Linked DNA regions of Homo sapiens: region 1 is linked to region 2. The links come from fine-mapping of genetic effects on gene expression. Tissue or cell type: left ventricle. Region 2 holds a variant in brackets; the other region holds the start of a gene. All regions are shown on one strand. Distances are from middle to middle.

Region 1 (7,795 bases), 260 kb after region 2:
AAACAAGGTTTTTTCACACCCCCAAGAGATCATATCAGCTTACCAGCAATGGATCCAAACTAAGACAAAATCTCTGAATTGCCAGAAAAAGTATTCAGAAGGTTGATTATTAAGCTAATCAAGGAGGCACCAGAGAAAGGTGAAGTCCAACTTAAAGAAATCAAAAACATGATACAGGATATGAAAGGAAAATTCTTCAGTGAAATAGATTGCACAAATAAAAAACAATCACAACTTCTGGAAACTGAACACACACTTACAGAAATGCAAAATACACTGGAAAGTCTCAGCAATAAAATCAAACAAGCAGAAGCAAGGCCTTAACAGCTCAAAGACAAGTCTTTCAAATTAACCCTACCCATCAAAGACAAAGCAAAATAATTTTTAAAAATAAACAAAGCCTCCAAAAATTTGGGACTACGTTATATGTCCAAAACTAAGAATAATTGGTGTTCCCAAGGAAAAAGAGAAATCTAAAATTTGGAAAACATATTTGAGGGAATAATCAAGAAAAACTTCCCTGGCCTTGCTGGAGATCTAGACATCCCAATAAAAGAAGCTCAAAGAACACCTGGGAAATTCATCACAAAAAGTTCATCACCTAGGCACATAGCCATCAGGTTATCTGAAGTCAAGATGAAGGAAAGAATCTTAAGAACTGTGAGGCAAAAGTGTCAGGTAACCTGTCAAGAAAAACCTATCAGATTAACAGCAGATTTCTCAGCAGAAACCCTACAAGTTAGAAGGGATTTGGGTCCTTTTTTTTTTTTTTTTTTTTGAGATAGAGTCTCACTCTGTTGCCCACACTGGAGTGCAGTGGCGCGATCCCAGCTCACTGCAACCTCTGCCTCCTGGGTTCAAGTGATTCTCCTGCCTCAGCCTCCTGAGTAGCTGGGACTACAGGGCACACCACCACACGCCTGGCTAATTTTTCTATTTTTAGTAGAGATGGGGTTTCACCATGTTGGCCAGGATGGTCTCGATCTCCTGACCTCGTGATCCACCCACCTCAGCTTCCCAAAGTGCTGGGATTACAGACGGAGCCACAGTGCCCAGCCTAGGGTCCTATTTTTAGCCTCCTTAAACAAAACAATGGTCAGCCAAGAATTTTGTATCCAGTGAAACTAACCTTCATCAATGAAGGAAAGATAGTCTTTTCCAGACAAACAAATGCTGAGAGAATTCACTACTACCAAGCCAGCACTAAAAGAACTGCTCAAAGCTCTAAATCTTGAAACAAATTCTCAAAATACACAAAAATAGAACCTCCTTAAAGCATAAATCTCACAGGATCTACATAACAAAAACTCAATTAAAAAAAAACAAGGTTATTCAGGCAACAAATAGCATGATGAGTAGACTAGTACCTCACATATCAATACTAATATTGAGTGTAAATGGCCCAAATGCTCTACTTAAAAGAAACAGAACAGCAGAATGGATAAGAAATTACCAACCAAATTTCTGCTGTCTTCAGGAGACTCACCTAACACATAAGGACTGACATGAACTTAAGGTAAGTGGAAAAAGATATTCTATGCAAATGGACACCAAAAGTGAGCAGGAGTAGCTGTTCTTATACCAGACATAACAACTTTAAAGCAACAGCAGTTTAAAAAGACAAAAAGGGACATTATATAATGATAAAAGGATTAGTCCAACAGAAAAATACTGCAATTCTAAATATATATGCACCTAACACTGAAACGCCCAAATTTATAAAACAATTACTATGCGATAAACAACAACACAATAATAGTGGGGGACTTTAATACTCCATGGACAGCACTAGACCGGTCATCAAGACAGAAAATCAACACAGAAACAATGGACCTAAACTATACCCTACAACAAATGGACTTAACAGATATTAACGAACATTCTACCCAACAATTGCAGAATATACATTCTATTCATCTGTACATAGAACATTCTCCAAGATAAACCATATGATAGGCCACAAAACAAGTCTCAGTAAATTTAAGAAAATCAAAATTATATCAAGTACTCTCTCAAACCACAATGGAAAAAAAATTGGAAGTCAACTCCAAAAGGAACCCTCAAAATCATGAAAATACATGGAAAATAAATAACCTACTCCTGAATAATTTTGGGGTCAACAATGAAATCAAGATGGAAATTTAAAAATTCTTTAAACTGAACAATAATAGTGACACAACCTATCAAAAACCCTAAGATACAGCAAAAGCAGTGCTAGGAGGAAAGTTTATAGCATCAAATGCCTATATCAAAAAGTCTGAAAGAGCAAAAATAGACAATCTAAGGTCACACCTCACAGAACTGGAGAAAGAACAATCAAAACTCAAACCCAGCAGAAGAAAAGAAATAACAAAGATCAGGGCAGAACTAAATGAAATTGAAACAAAAAAAATACAAAAAATAAATGAAATGAAAAACCTGGTTCTTTGAAGAGATAAATAAAATTGATGAACCATTAGTGAGATTAACGAAGTAAACAAGAGAGAAGATCCAAATAAACTCAATTAGAAATGAAACAGGAGCTATTACAAACTGATACCAGAGAAATACAAAAGATTATTCAAGACTTCCATGAATGCCTTTATATGCATAAACTAGAAAACCTAGAGGAGATGGATAAATTCCTGAAAATATACCACCCTCCTAGGTTAAACCAGGAAGATATAGAATCGCCGAACAGACCAATAACAAGCAGTGAGATTGAAATTGTAATTTTTTTTAATACCAACAAAAAAAAAGTCCAGGACCAGATGGATTTACAGTTGAATTCTATCACACATTCAAAGAAGAAGTGGTACCAATTCTATAGACACTATTCCACAAGATAGAGAAAGAGAGCATCCTCCCTAAATCACTCTGTGAAGCCAGTATCATCCTAATACCGAAACCAGGGAATGACATAACAAAAAAAGAAAACTACAGACCAACATCTTTGATGAACATAGATGCAAAAATCCTCAATCAAATACTAGTGAACTGAATCCAACAGCATATCAAAAAGATAATCCACCATAATCAAGTGGGATGCAGGGATGATTTAACATACCCAAGTCAATAAATGTGATACACCACATAAACAGAATTAAAAACAAAACCACATGATCATCTCAATAGCTGCAGAAAAAGCATTTAACAAAATCCAGCATCCCTTTATGATTAAAACTCTCATCAACAAAACTGGCACACCTTAAGGTAATAAAAGCCACATAACAATAAACCCACAGCCAACATTATACTGAAAGGGGAAAAGTAGAAAGCATTCTCCTTGAGAACTGGAACAAGAGAAGGATGCCCACTTTCACCACTTCTATTCAACATAGTACTGGAAGTCCTAGCCAGAGCAATCAGACAAAAGGAAGAAATAAAGGGCATTCAAATTGGTAAAAAGGAGGTCAAACTGTCACTGTTTGCTGATGATATGATCGTATACCTAGAAAAGCCTAAAGACTCATCCAAAAAGCTCCTACAGGATGCAAAATTAATATACACAAATAAGTAGCTCTGCTGTACACCAGCAGCAACCAAGCTGAGAATCAAATCAAGAACTCAACCCCTTTCAAAATAGAAAAAAAAAAAACTTAGGTATATACCTAAGATTTTGGGTGACGATAATGTGTCATTGTAGGTTCATTAAATGTAACAAGTGTTATACTCTGGTGGAGGATTTTGATAATCAGGGAAGCTGGAAGGGAGGGGTGATATATGGGAACTCCCTGAACTTTCTGCTTAATTTTTCTGTGAACTTGAAACTTCTCTAGAAAGATAAATTCTATCAGAAACATAAACAAAAAAGAACAGAGAATGAGAGTGGGGGAGATTTTTTACAAGAATGTATAGAGGTGTGACAAAGGATGACTAGATGGGAACTTTTAGATTCTGGAAGGGGACAGCAGTGCAGCAAAGCTTTCATATGGGTGTGAGCTGTCATGCACATGGCTCCTATCTGAAAATCTTGTTCTTCTAGAATCCAGGTCTGCTGGCCAACATCTCAGCAGTTTTCACCCTGCAGACTTAATTAGGCTTCCTCTTCCTTATGTCCCCTCCCTGAATATGGCATTTTGAAAGCCCAGTGTTGCCCAGGGGGCATCTCCTTTGTGTTTATGAGAGACCTGCATTCTCCCTGGCTCAGTTCTCTCAGGCTCTCCAGAGCTCAGGACCTCTGAGAAGAATGGAGCCCTCCTGGCTTCAGGAACTCATGGCTCACCCCTTCTTGCTGCTGATCCTCCTCTGCATGTCTCTGCTGCTGTTTCAGGTAATCAGGTTGTACCAGAGGAGGAGATGGATGATCAGAGCCCTGCACCTGTTTCCTGCACCCCCTGCCCACTGGTTCTATGGCCACAAGGAGGTAAGAGGAGAAAATTAGTTGGGGAGGTTAAGGGACAGAAAGATGAGGTATTAAAAAAAAACAGCACAGACTGGTGGGGCATTATGTAATATGCAAAATGCTTTCACACCAATCTCATTGTGATTTTTACAAAAATTCTATGATATGGGGAGGAAAGATATTGTTATTCCTGTTTTACAGATAAGAAAACTGAAGCCTAAAATAGAAATGCAACTTTCCTGTGCTACCCACCTCATAAATGACAGAAATGAAACTTGAACCCTGGTCTTCTGATTCAAGGCCAAGGTCTTTACTATTCTCAGGACTCTGGGTGTTCTAGAGAGAAATAGACCAAGCCAATTGTTAACAGGAACTATACCAAGATGCTACAGCTTCTAATGAAGCTGGAAATAGGAAAACATTTAGCAAATTAGAAAGGAAAGTTGAAAGATGAGCAGCAACCAAAAGGAGTAAAAGGCATGTGAGACTTCGCTGCTTTGGAGGCAGATAAAGCATGAGTGGGTATATCCAGAGCAAAGATGAGGTAGGGCATCAGTGGTTACTAACGGTTTACCTTGTGCCAGGAATTTTATGTTTATAATTTCACTTAATTTTCATGGCAGCTTTGTAAAATATATTTGGTCTTCCTATTATACACGTGAGGAAATCATGGCCCTGATGACCTAGATAATGAATAAGTGTCAGATTGGGATTTGAACTTAAATCTCCAAAGTTGACGCTGGAGTGAGAAGACCAATCGCTCAGCAACAGGTCCTGAGCACTTGCCCAGGGCCACGAAGATTCTGTGGAGGTGCTGGAGACACATGGAGAAGAAAACTTGCCTTCAACAGATGTGAACCTGTCTGATGGGGTGGTGTCCACAGATCCTCAACTTAGCACATGGTCCATCCGAGGGAAAGGGGTCCTCCTGGGGTGACAACCTTTACTAACCAGTCATGACTTATCTTATGACAGTTTTACCCAGTAAAGGAGTTTGAGGTGTATCATAAGCTGATGGAAAAATACCCATGTGCTGTTCCCTTGTGGGTTGGACCCTTTACGATGTTCTTCAGTGTCCATGACCCAGACTATGCCAAGATTCTCCTGAAAAGACAAGGTAAAAACCAAGAGGGGCTCACAGTACAGAGCAGCAACAAAGAGGGTCTCAGGGTGTCTGTGGCACTAGGGAAGGACAGGTTGAAGCATTTTTAAGGGAAATCCATCATTTGATATGTTGAAGGGAAGATTCCATGTCCTCCTCAACATCATAGTCAGGACTCTATTGAGGGCTGTTGTAGAGGATTCTCTGATCCATTTTCAAGCAATCTTCTCTCCCTACATGGCAAATTTTTTCTGATGCTTCCATCACATTTACTTACCTCAGACCCCCAGGACTACCACTTACCATCACTGTGAACATACAGTGGGTTGGGCATGCAGTGGTGGTTTGCTTACAATTGGCTTAACGCCAGTGCTGCACAGAGATGAGTGTTCCCCATAGATGCTTTGCCCACTAATGTTGCCTGTCCTCTGGGAATGGCCAGTGCCAGGTTGGAGGCTCTGGCAAGTGGACACCAGTTCTCCATCTGGTCCCTAGTGTGGGAATTCCGTGGAATTGCAGAGCTGCTTCTTGGCCGTGGCAAGATGTGTGTAGGATTCCCCCACTGGGCTTTCCTCAACTGCCTGTTGGCATATAAGGCTGGCCTTCGCCTCACTCTCCCAGCTACCTACATGAGTCATTCAGTTATAAAATGCCTCCATACCACTCTTGGTGCTTCTGCAAAATTTCAAGCAGCCTGTGGCTCTCTCATTTCACAGGGCACTCTGCCAGAATCACCATCTCAGCTTTCTTCCTGGTAATGGTGCAAGAAATGTCTGGCTATCCAGTTTCAAACTTTACTCTGCTCCCCTTTATGCTCTGCTCTCACCTTTGGACCTTTGCCCAAAAGGGATGAAAGAGGAAAGTGATTGTTTCTCCTTTGGAGTTATTTTCTCTTCTTTATCTACAAATTCTCTCTTCAGTGTGTTCACTCCCTTGAGAAGGGAGGCTTAGTTTCTGGCTGTTTTTCTTTTTTTGTGGTTGGTTGTAAGGGCATCTGGGCAGGCCATACAGGGAAAGCCATCCTTCCTGTTCATATTTTCTTCAGTCCCCATTGTCTTCAACTCACAACCTTAGCTCCTTCCCAGAGAAGCCAAGAATTTCTCTCCCTCTCTTGCTTTTTTTCTCTTACTGTTTTGTTTTCTTTTCCTTTGGTTTGTATTCCCTGCTGGTGCCTAAAATTGTCTCCTCCTCAGAGAAAAGGATAATTTTATGCCTTGAAGTGTGATAACTGTACAGTTACATGAGAAAAGAGCAGAATAATATACAGAGTATGGGATGTTAAGTTATTTATCTGCCACACATTAGTACTTCTTTTTGAGTCCCACTGCAGAAGCACGGTGGCCAAAAAAGGAGAGCTGAGAATCCTGCTCTTATTATTTCTGGCCAGACCCACCCAAATCATCTTATCCCCAGCTTTTTATTTTGAAAATTTTCAACCCTACAAGAGAAATTTTGAACACCCATTGTACCCTTCTCTAGTGTCATTAATTGATATCATATTCCCATATGTGCTTTTCTTTTAATTACATTCATTTTATTGTGGTAAAATATACATAAACTAAAAATTTACCATTTTAAATCACTTTTAAGTATACAATTTAATGGCATTAAATACATTTACATTGTTGTGCAACTATCACCGCCATCCATCTTCAGAACTTTTTCATCTTCCCAAACTGGAACTCTGTACACATTAAACTCTAACTCCCCATTTTCCCCTCCCCCCAGCCTCAGGCAACAACCATTCTACTTTCTGTCTTTTTAAATTTCCCTATTCTAGGTACCTCCATAAGTAGAACCATACAATATTGTCCTTTTGTAACTGGCTTATTTCATGTAGCATAATGTCCTCAAGGTTCATCCATGTTGTAGTATATATCAAAACGTCCTTTCTTTTTAAGGCTGAATTTCCATTGTATGTATGTACCACATTTTGTTTATCCATTCCTCTGACAATGGACACTTGGATAACTTCTATCAGTTGGCTTTTGTGAATAATGCTGTCATGAACATGCATGTACAAATATCTGTTTGGGTCCTTTCAATTATTTCAAGTTGATACCAAAAAGTGGAATTACTGAGTCACATGATAATTCTATATATAATTTTTTGAAGAACTGTGATAGCATTTTCCACAGTGGCTGCACCATTTCACATACCCACCAGCAATGCACAAGGGTTCCAATTTCTTCACGTTCTCACCAACATTTGTTATTTTCTGGGGATTTAAAAAATAATAATAATAGCTACAATGGCTCACACCTGTAATCCCAGCACTTTGGGAGGCCAAGGCAGGCAGATCACTTGAGCCCTGGAGTTTAAGACCTGAGCAACATGAAAAAATCCCATCTCTATTTAAAAAAAAATAG
Region 2 (7,795 bases):
TTCTTGGACACTGGCCCACTGAGCTTCGGGTCAACTGGCTGATGGCTTGAGCAGGCTTGCTAACAAGGGCTGCAGAAAGAGACTAAGCCAGGATCCCTGGTCTCCCTTAACTCATGCTGGACTGTTCCCTTTGGTCTTTGTACCGCACGTTTCCACCTTTAAAGAGAGGTCAGGGTTCCACTAGGCAATGTTGAAATCCTTTTCCGATCTGATTCTTGGAGCAAAGCTTACTTTAGGCTCTTGAGAAGCAGAGAGGAAAGTGGTGACGTATGCTTGCTCTTCCCAATCCCTCCAGTGGTTTATTTCTGGTGAGGTCAACAAGGAGTGCCAATGTGAGGGTGGGAGGTGGGGCTGGGGAGCTGGGATCAGTGAATTATTTTCATACCCTGCTCTCTTCCTGTTTCCTTCCTTCTGGAGAAAAAACAAGCCGTCCCAGAACTTCCAGTCCTGTAAGTGTCCCAGCTCAGGCATTCTGAGGGCGAGTCTGAGGCATGCAGTTGTGTAATCCAGAGGAACTGTCCAGGCAGTCACGTGTACCCCACAGGGAGGATGCCTCAGCCCTCTTGAGGGGCTGCAGCTGCAATAGTGGGACCAGGTGCTGGGAGCTGTCCTCCTTCTTACCAGGCTCCCGGGGTAATCAAGGCAGGTGCCTGGCAGGTGCTTCTAGTTCTCTAGCTTTATTTAAAAGTTTGGCCATCGCTTGGGCTCATGCACATGTTTTTTATTTATCTTAGTTTTCTTTATTTCTTAAATAAATCTAAAGAGCTAGGAGAAAGCTGGGCACAGGGAGGCAGTGGCAAGCTGGCTGCGACCTCGATCAGGGCACAGGTTGTGAATGTGGTCAGCATGAGACCAGGGTCTACTGTCCCTTGTGGGGTTGCTGCAGAGGTGCACAAGCATAGCTGATAAGGAGGGAAGTGGGGCTTGGATGAACCAGATCAGCCAAAGGCTCCTTCCAATCCTAAGATCCTATGAGTCTGGCTTTTTTGTGACTTAAGCCTTTCCTTGACCCATCCAATTGGGCTTTCTGGACCTGGTAGGGATGGAGAGAAGGGGAATGGCCAGGTGACCAGGAAGTTGGCAAGGAAAACCCAGGAGGGCAGATGGAAAAATAAGACAGACACCAGGGAAAGGAGCACTTCCAGGGATACCAGCCAGGAGGGAGGCAGGCATACAAGAATGTTTCCCCTTGCCTGTGGGTGGAGATGATTTTTATCACTTTGTGTTCTTTTTGACATCGTGTACTCAAGGGCAGTGAAAACTCTTACAGCCCTGTTGGGTTGAACTCAGGATTCTGCGTTCAGAGGCAGTGAGGGAAGGGATCAATGGGATGATTACAGACGACTCCACAGAGGGCCTAGGAGGGGAAGAGCCCTAGAGAAGGCACAGACGGGTGGCTGGAGGCCAAAATAGGCCCAATCCCATGAGCCCTTGGAGATAGTGGCTTGGGCCAGAAAGGATCCCTGGGGGCTACATTATCAGATGCCTGTGTCCTTCTTTAAGAATGTTCCCTGGAAGATACAACATGGATGTCTTAGTCCTTTGTGTTGCTGTAAATGAATACCTGAGACTGGGTAAAAGGTTTATTTGGCTCACAGTTCCACAGGCTGTACAGGAGGCATGGTCAATATCTGCTTCTGGTGAAACTGCTATTCATGAGGAGGAGCTTTAGGAAACTGCTATTCATGAGGAAGAGCAGACATCACATGGCAAGAGAGGAGGAAAGGAGAAAGAGAGAGAGAGAGAGAGAGGTGCCAGACTCTTTTTAACAAACAGCTCTCAAATGGTATTTCTAGTTCTAGATCCCTGAGGAATCGCCACACTGACTTCCACAATGATTGAACTAGTTTACAGTCCCACCAACAGTGTAAAAGTGTTCCTATTTCTCCACATCCTCTCCAGCACCTGTTGTTTCCTGACTTTTTAATGATTGTCATTCTAACTGGTGTGAGATGGTATCTCATTGTGGTTTTGATTTGCATTTCTCTGATGGCCAGTGATGATGAGCATTTTTTCATGTGTTTTTTGGCTGCATAAATGTCTTCTTTTGAGAAGTGTCTGTTCATGTCCTTCGCCCACTTTTTGATGGGGTTGTTTGTTTTTTTCTTGTAAATTTGTTTGAGTTCATTGTAGATTCTGGATATTAGCCCTTTGTCAGATGAGTAGGTTGCGAAAATTTTCTCCCATTTTGTAGGTTGCCTGCAGCCCTCCCATTACTGGGTATATACCCAAAGGACTATAAATCATGCTGCTATAAAGACACATGCACACGTATGTTTATTGCGGCATTATTCACAATAGCAAAGACTTGGAACCAACCCAAAGGTCCAACAATGATAGACTGGATTAAGAAAATGGGGCACATATACACCATGGAATACTATGCAGCCATAAAAAATGATGAGTTCATGTCCTTTGTAGGGACATGGATGAAATTGGAAATCATCATTCTCAGTAAACTATCGCAAGAACAAAAAACCAAACACCGCATATTCTCACTCATAGGTGGGAATTGAACAATGAGATCACATGGACACAGGAAGGGGAATATCACACTCTGGGGACTGTGGTGGGGTGGGGGGAGGGGGGAGGGGTAGCATTGGGAGATATACATAATGCTAGATGACGAGTTAGTGGGTGCAGCGCACCAGCATGGCACATGTATACATATGTAACTAACCTGCACAATGTGCACATGTACCCTAAAACTTAAAGTATAATAAAAAAAACCCAAAAAACAAACAAAAAACAAAAAAATAAACAATATGCAAAATCCTTAAAAAAAAACAAAACAAAACAAAACAAAAAAAAGCTCTCATGGGAACTAAGAGAACTCACTCAATCCTGCCAGAATGGCCCCAGGGCCATTCATGAGGGATCCACCCCTATGATGCCAACACCTCCCATGAGGCCCCACCTCCAACATTGGAGATCAGATTTCAAAATGAGATTAGGAGGGGACAAATGTCCAAATTATTAAGGTTTGGACATTTTTCCCTTCCTAATTTGTTTGGATACTATCAGTGAATAGGTGGCAATTGTGAGAGAGAATTTTACGGAGAGAAAAAGCAGGCCCAGCACAGGCTCAGGCCTCAACAGGAATTTTATGGGACTGTAACCTAACCTCTCTATTCCTTAGGCTCCTCTTCCCTAAAATGGGACCACTTAGAGTTGTTGTGAGGATTCAATCAGGTCAAAATGTAAGGTGCTTAGAACAAGGTCTAGCACACAGCAAGTGCTTAATAAAGATTAGTCATTACCATGCCTCCCCACAAACTCCAGAGCTTGGACCTTTTCCAAGGCCCCTGGGCAGGCCACTAGGAGTGTTAAGTGTATCTTTGAAAGACTCCCACTAAATGGGGAAAAATAGTTAAATACATTATGGTACATCCTTATAGTGAAATACTACACAACTGTTAAAAATAGTAATGACAGTTAAGTGCACTAGCTTGGAAAGGAGGACAAGTTATGTTCAATGAAAAATGGCTGGTTTTGCAAAAATATTTATTGTATAACTTCATTTACTTAAAACACCTCTGGGTGAGTAAACGTGACTAGAAAAACCTCCAAAGGACATGTACCACCCTCTGGATGACCTATTCAAGCTCATCCCAGGTGACTGTCCCACCATGGGGCAGCTCCTGGAAGACACCATGATCTTTCCCAACCCAGCGCGTTTGTGCTTTCTGTTTTCTCACCTGGAATGCTTTTCCTTTATGCTTCACATGGCCAGAGACTCACCATCCTTCAAGTTTCACCTTAAATGTTGTCTCCAACAAGAAGCCTTCCAAGATTACCCTATCTAAGCAGGCCCTCCCTGTTAGTGTCTCTCATAGCACTGTTTTTATTCTGAGCACTCACTATTGTCTGTGATTATTTTACTTAATTGTCTACTTGTCTATTATCTGTCTTCTCCATAGAATGAAAGGGCAGAACTTGTCTGTCTCATTCCCCTGAGATGTCTAGAACAGAGCCCTGCACATGTAGGCCCTCAATAAAAATGTGTTGAACGATACGGCAGGGGTGGAATTGAGGCCATTTCTCTATTGCACAATGAGCAAATATTACCTATCTTTATAATTAAAGAGCTTTAATGTGGAGAAGAAAGCACTTTCTGGCTGCAGTGCAGTAGAGAGTTGGTGGCAGGTGCTAAATGGAAGCAGGTTGGCTACTTTGGGGATGTTGAGCTAACCCCGGTGTGAGAAGAGGGCGGCTTGGAATTAGAGCAGTGGTTGTGGGGCTGGAGAGGGGACTAAGCCCAGGGATGTTTAGGAGAAGAGGGTGCAGGAGAGGTAAGGAAGCAACCAGGGCCTGCCTGGGCAGCCTTCTCCCCTGCCCTCCCAGGGACTTGGGGCCTAGCTGGTGACAATGTGTTCCTGAGTGACCTTGGCCTTCTGTCATCATTTCAGATCCAGGAGACGGGGAGCCTGGACAAAGTGGTGTCCTGGGCCCACCAGTTCCCGTATGCCCACCCACTCTGGTTCGGACAGTTCATTGGCTTCCTGAACATCTATGAGCCTGACTATGCCAAAGCTGTGTACAGCCGTGGGGGTGAGGAGAGAGGATGGGGATCTCAGGAGAGGGTGGGGCTTCCTGAGAACAAAGGGCTCAGGGCATGATATGGGGAGGAAGCCTGGGCCTGTGTACTAAGTCTGCGGAGCTGAGGTTCCCACCCTACTCATAAATGAGCCTCCTCTAGGAACCCCGGGTCCCTGCTTGACCTGATTGTCTCCTCCTGCAGACCCTAAGGCCCCTGATGTGTATGACTTCTTCCTCCAGTGGATTGGTGAGTGAGCACCTGCCTTCCCTGCCCTGCCAACCTCAGACCCGTGGTGCTGGGTGACTAGGATCCTGGCCTGTCCCACTCAATTGGTTATCCCAGATGGCCTAGTTCTCGGGTGCCCATCCTAAGCTCAGCTGCTCAGTGGAGAGACAAGGGAGGAGCAGGAGAGCCCCCAGCTGTGGGGCCAAGGCATCTTCTCTGGCAGGGCCTGATTCTCTAGACAGGGCAAAGGCTTTGGAGAATGTGTGAGTGCGAAGAACAGTTTCCTGAAGGAGGTGGCACTAGAGTTGATCCAAAAGGAGATTTAAATAGGTAGTGCTGGCCAGGGCAAGGGCCTAAGGAAATGGTGTGGTGGTAGGACCA[C/T]GGCTGGTCACCAGAGGCTGTGAGGCTGTCGGGGTGGCTACAAGGCAGAGCCCAGCTTGGAGATGATGCTGGGCAGGGAGGACAGGCCAGCCTTGACTGCCAGGATAAGGAGGTGATTTGATGTTGAGAGTAGGTGGGAGTCATTGAGTATTTTATTTTATTTTATTTTACTTTTTCCTTTACAGAGGTACTCAAGTTAAAGCCATTGAGTATTCTTTAGCCAAGGCCATATGCTTCTCCAAAGCTCCTCTTTTACTCATGATCCTATGGTGTCTTCAGCGTTTTCCTGGGAGCTGAGAAAGGGCAGGGCCAAGAGGGAGAACACATTCCCAATCCTATTTACTCACCGAGTACCACTGGGAAGACTTTTTGCTTCTAACCCTCTTTTTAGTTATCAATGGGAGGATAAAATTAGAAGGCAGACAGAAAAGGGTTAGGAAAATGAAGAGGTGGTTTTGAAGACAGGAATGCATTTCCATTGCTGGGTGTGTTGGAGTGGGGTAGGAAGGGTCCCACCTGAGGCCATGAAGCACGAACACGGTGGGACATTCCCTAAGTCCTGAAGCTGTGGCCAGTCTCAGCAGCTGAGAGTCAAGGCTCAGCAGGCTCCCCCTCTGCTTGGCTGTCCCCAGGGGGATGCGTGTCCTTTGTCTCACATCTGGCAATGTCATCTGACACAAGTTCCTGGACCCAGGCTTTGTGGGTGCAGCTGAGATACAGAAACTGAGTTATCCTGTCCTAAGGAAGGAGCTCACTCAGCCAAGAACTGCTGCCACCTGTCTCCTGAGGTCCTGGTAGCCTAGGGTGAGGGCATGGAGGGCAATACTGGGTCGCTTAGTGGCCCACCCTTGGAGGGTTCCAGGCTCAGGGATGGAGTCGTGTAGGATGTGCTTAGCCCCAGGCTGCCAGGGCCTGGACTGACCAGCCCTCTCTCTCCCATCCCTTCCCCAGGGAGAGGCCTGCTGGTTCTTGAGGGGCCCAAGTGGTTGCAGCACCGCAAGCTGCTCACACCTGGCTTTCATTATGATGTGCTGAAGCCCTATGTGGCCGTGTTCACTGAGTCTACACGTATCATGCTGGTGAGCTCCCTGTGCCAGAGTACTGGAGGCTGTTGCCTGCTGGGCTAGCCCCTCTCCACCCTGATTTTGTCCTGGGGAGAGTAGGTGGTGCTCTGCAGTAAGGAGAATAGCTGAGCCCCAAGGCCTGTTCTGCCTGCAACAGCAGTGCCAAAGCCCTGCTCTACTGACATGTGCCGCAGGCTGCCACTGAGTCGGTGCTGAATCTCTAAGTGTCCTGGCAGCCCGATCCTTGTCTCCACCAGGAGACCCAGCCCTCTTTCCTCCCAGGCCAAAGGGTCTCTGTGAGAACTTAATAAGGCTCCTAGCATAGCAGGTTTGAGGACTGCCTATATTTGAGAGTATGGGGAAAGGCTTTCACATCTAAAACGTGTCTCCTCATTTTCTGTCTACCACAGCTGCCCAGAATTATGTCAATACAACTCATCTCTAAGAGGGATGTCAGAGGTCAGGGTTAGAGTCTTAGGGCTGGGTAATCCCTAAGTTATCCAGGCTAGTCTTTCCCCTTGTAGGAAACTCCCCTCCAGGATTACTTACATATACACCATGCGGGGGAGCTCACCACCTCTCAGCCATCCTACTCCCTTATAGGCTGCCCTGACTGGGAGAAAACGTCTGTGTGCTGTGCAAGATCTGCCTCCTGGTCCTGCCCTCTGAGCCTGAAGCCCAGAGGCTTCCAAACTTCTACCCACCCTATCCTGATATTCCAGCAGGATGGAGGGCAGGACAGGGACTGGGAGTGTGTGAAGGGGGCTTGGTGGTGGAGGATAGGCTACGGGTCCTGGAGGGCAGCTTGGGGCATCCAGCCCAACTAACCCCTGCATCGCCTCCTACACATTGCCTCCTATCCCTGGACTCCAGGACAAGTGGGAAGAGAAAGCTCGGGAGGGTAAGTCCTTTGACATCTTCTGCGATGTGGGTCACATGGCGCTGAACACACTCATGAAGTGCACCTTTGGAAGAGGAGACACCGGCCTGGGCCACAGGTCAGGAGCCACCTCGGGGCTGACCGCACTGTCTCCAAAGCCATCTTAGAGGGGAGAGTTGGCAGGGGTCCTGGGCTCTGATCTGAGAAGAGATAGGGTCCTGCCCCAGGGAGCCTTAGCTTGCGGGGAGACAGGACCTGCTCATGGTGGGGTAAACACCTGGCTTTAGCAAGGAGGCTTAAGGGCAGGGAGAAGAAGAGCAGGATGCTCTGTGGTTGGGGCTAGATTCCTGGAATGGAGTTTCTCTGGCTCTGCTCCTGGGCCAGTGTCTAAGCCAATCCCTCCTCCTACCCTCTGCTTAGCAGGGACAGCAGCTACTACCTTGCAGTCAGCGATCTCACTCTGTTGATGCAGCAGCGCCTTGTGTCCTTCCAGTACCATAATGACTTCATCTACTGGCTCACCCCACATGGCCGCCGCTTCCTGCGGGCCTGCCAGGTGGCCCATGACCATACAGGTGGGCCTTTCCCACAAGGCTCACCTCTAGGAAGCCTGGGTTCCTCCTCCTGGCCCCTCTATGCCCCCTCCCATTATAGGACCCCAGTTCCCCTTTGGACAAAAGATGGCTTCCCAGGCAGTGACACTCT

Which allele goes with the higher level. Alleles are on the strand shown, and positions count from the first base shown. SD is a standard deviation of normalised expression in the study named.
For the expression in left ventricle of the gene that starts at base 3,909 in region 1, allele T in region 2 goes with a lower level than allele C (small effect, 0.29 SD a copy in GTEx).

Evidence for each region. PIP is the estimated chance that this variant, and not a neighbour inherited with it, causes the effect. A credible set is the group of variants that fine-mapping cannot tell apart.
Region 1: it holds the start of CYP4Z1, and the variant in region 2 is the best candidate, but not a certain one, in a credible set for the expression of CYP4Z1 in left ventricle (GTEx, PIP 0.55).

Annotation. Positions count from the first base shown.
Region 1 is chr1:47,063,323-47,071,117 of GRCh38, forward strand. It overlaps CYP4Z1 (cytochrome P450 family 4 subfamily Z member 1), which reads left to right and starts at 3,909. Exons shown (of 12, transcript NM_178134.3): 1 at 3,909-4,345; 2 at 5,300-5,441. The coding sequence starts at 4,169.
Region 2 is chr1:46,806,399-46,814,193 of GRCh38, forward strand. It overlaps CYP4B1 (cytochrome P450 family 4 subfamily B member 1), which reads left to right. Exons shown (of 12, transcript NM_001099772.2): 2 at 4,410-4,551; 3 at 4,742-4,786; 4 at 6,098-6,225; 5 at 7,084-7,208; 6 at 7,511-7,665. Among named protein-coding and RNA genes, the nearest start is that of CYP4B1, 11 kb to the left of the region's middle. The variant C/T (reference allele first, on the strand shown) is at 5,147.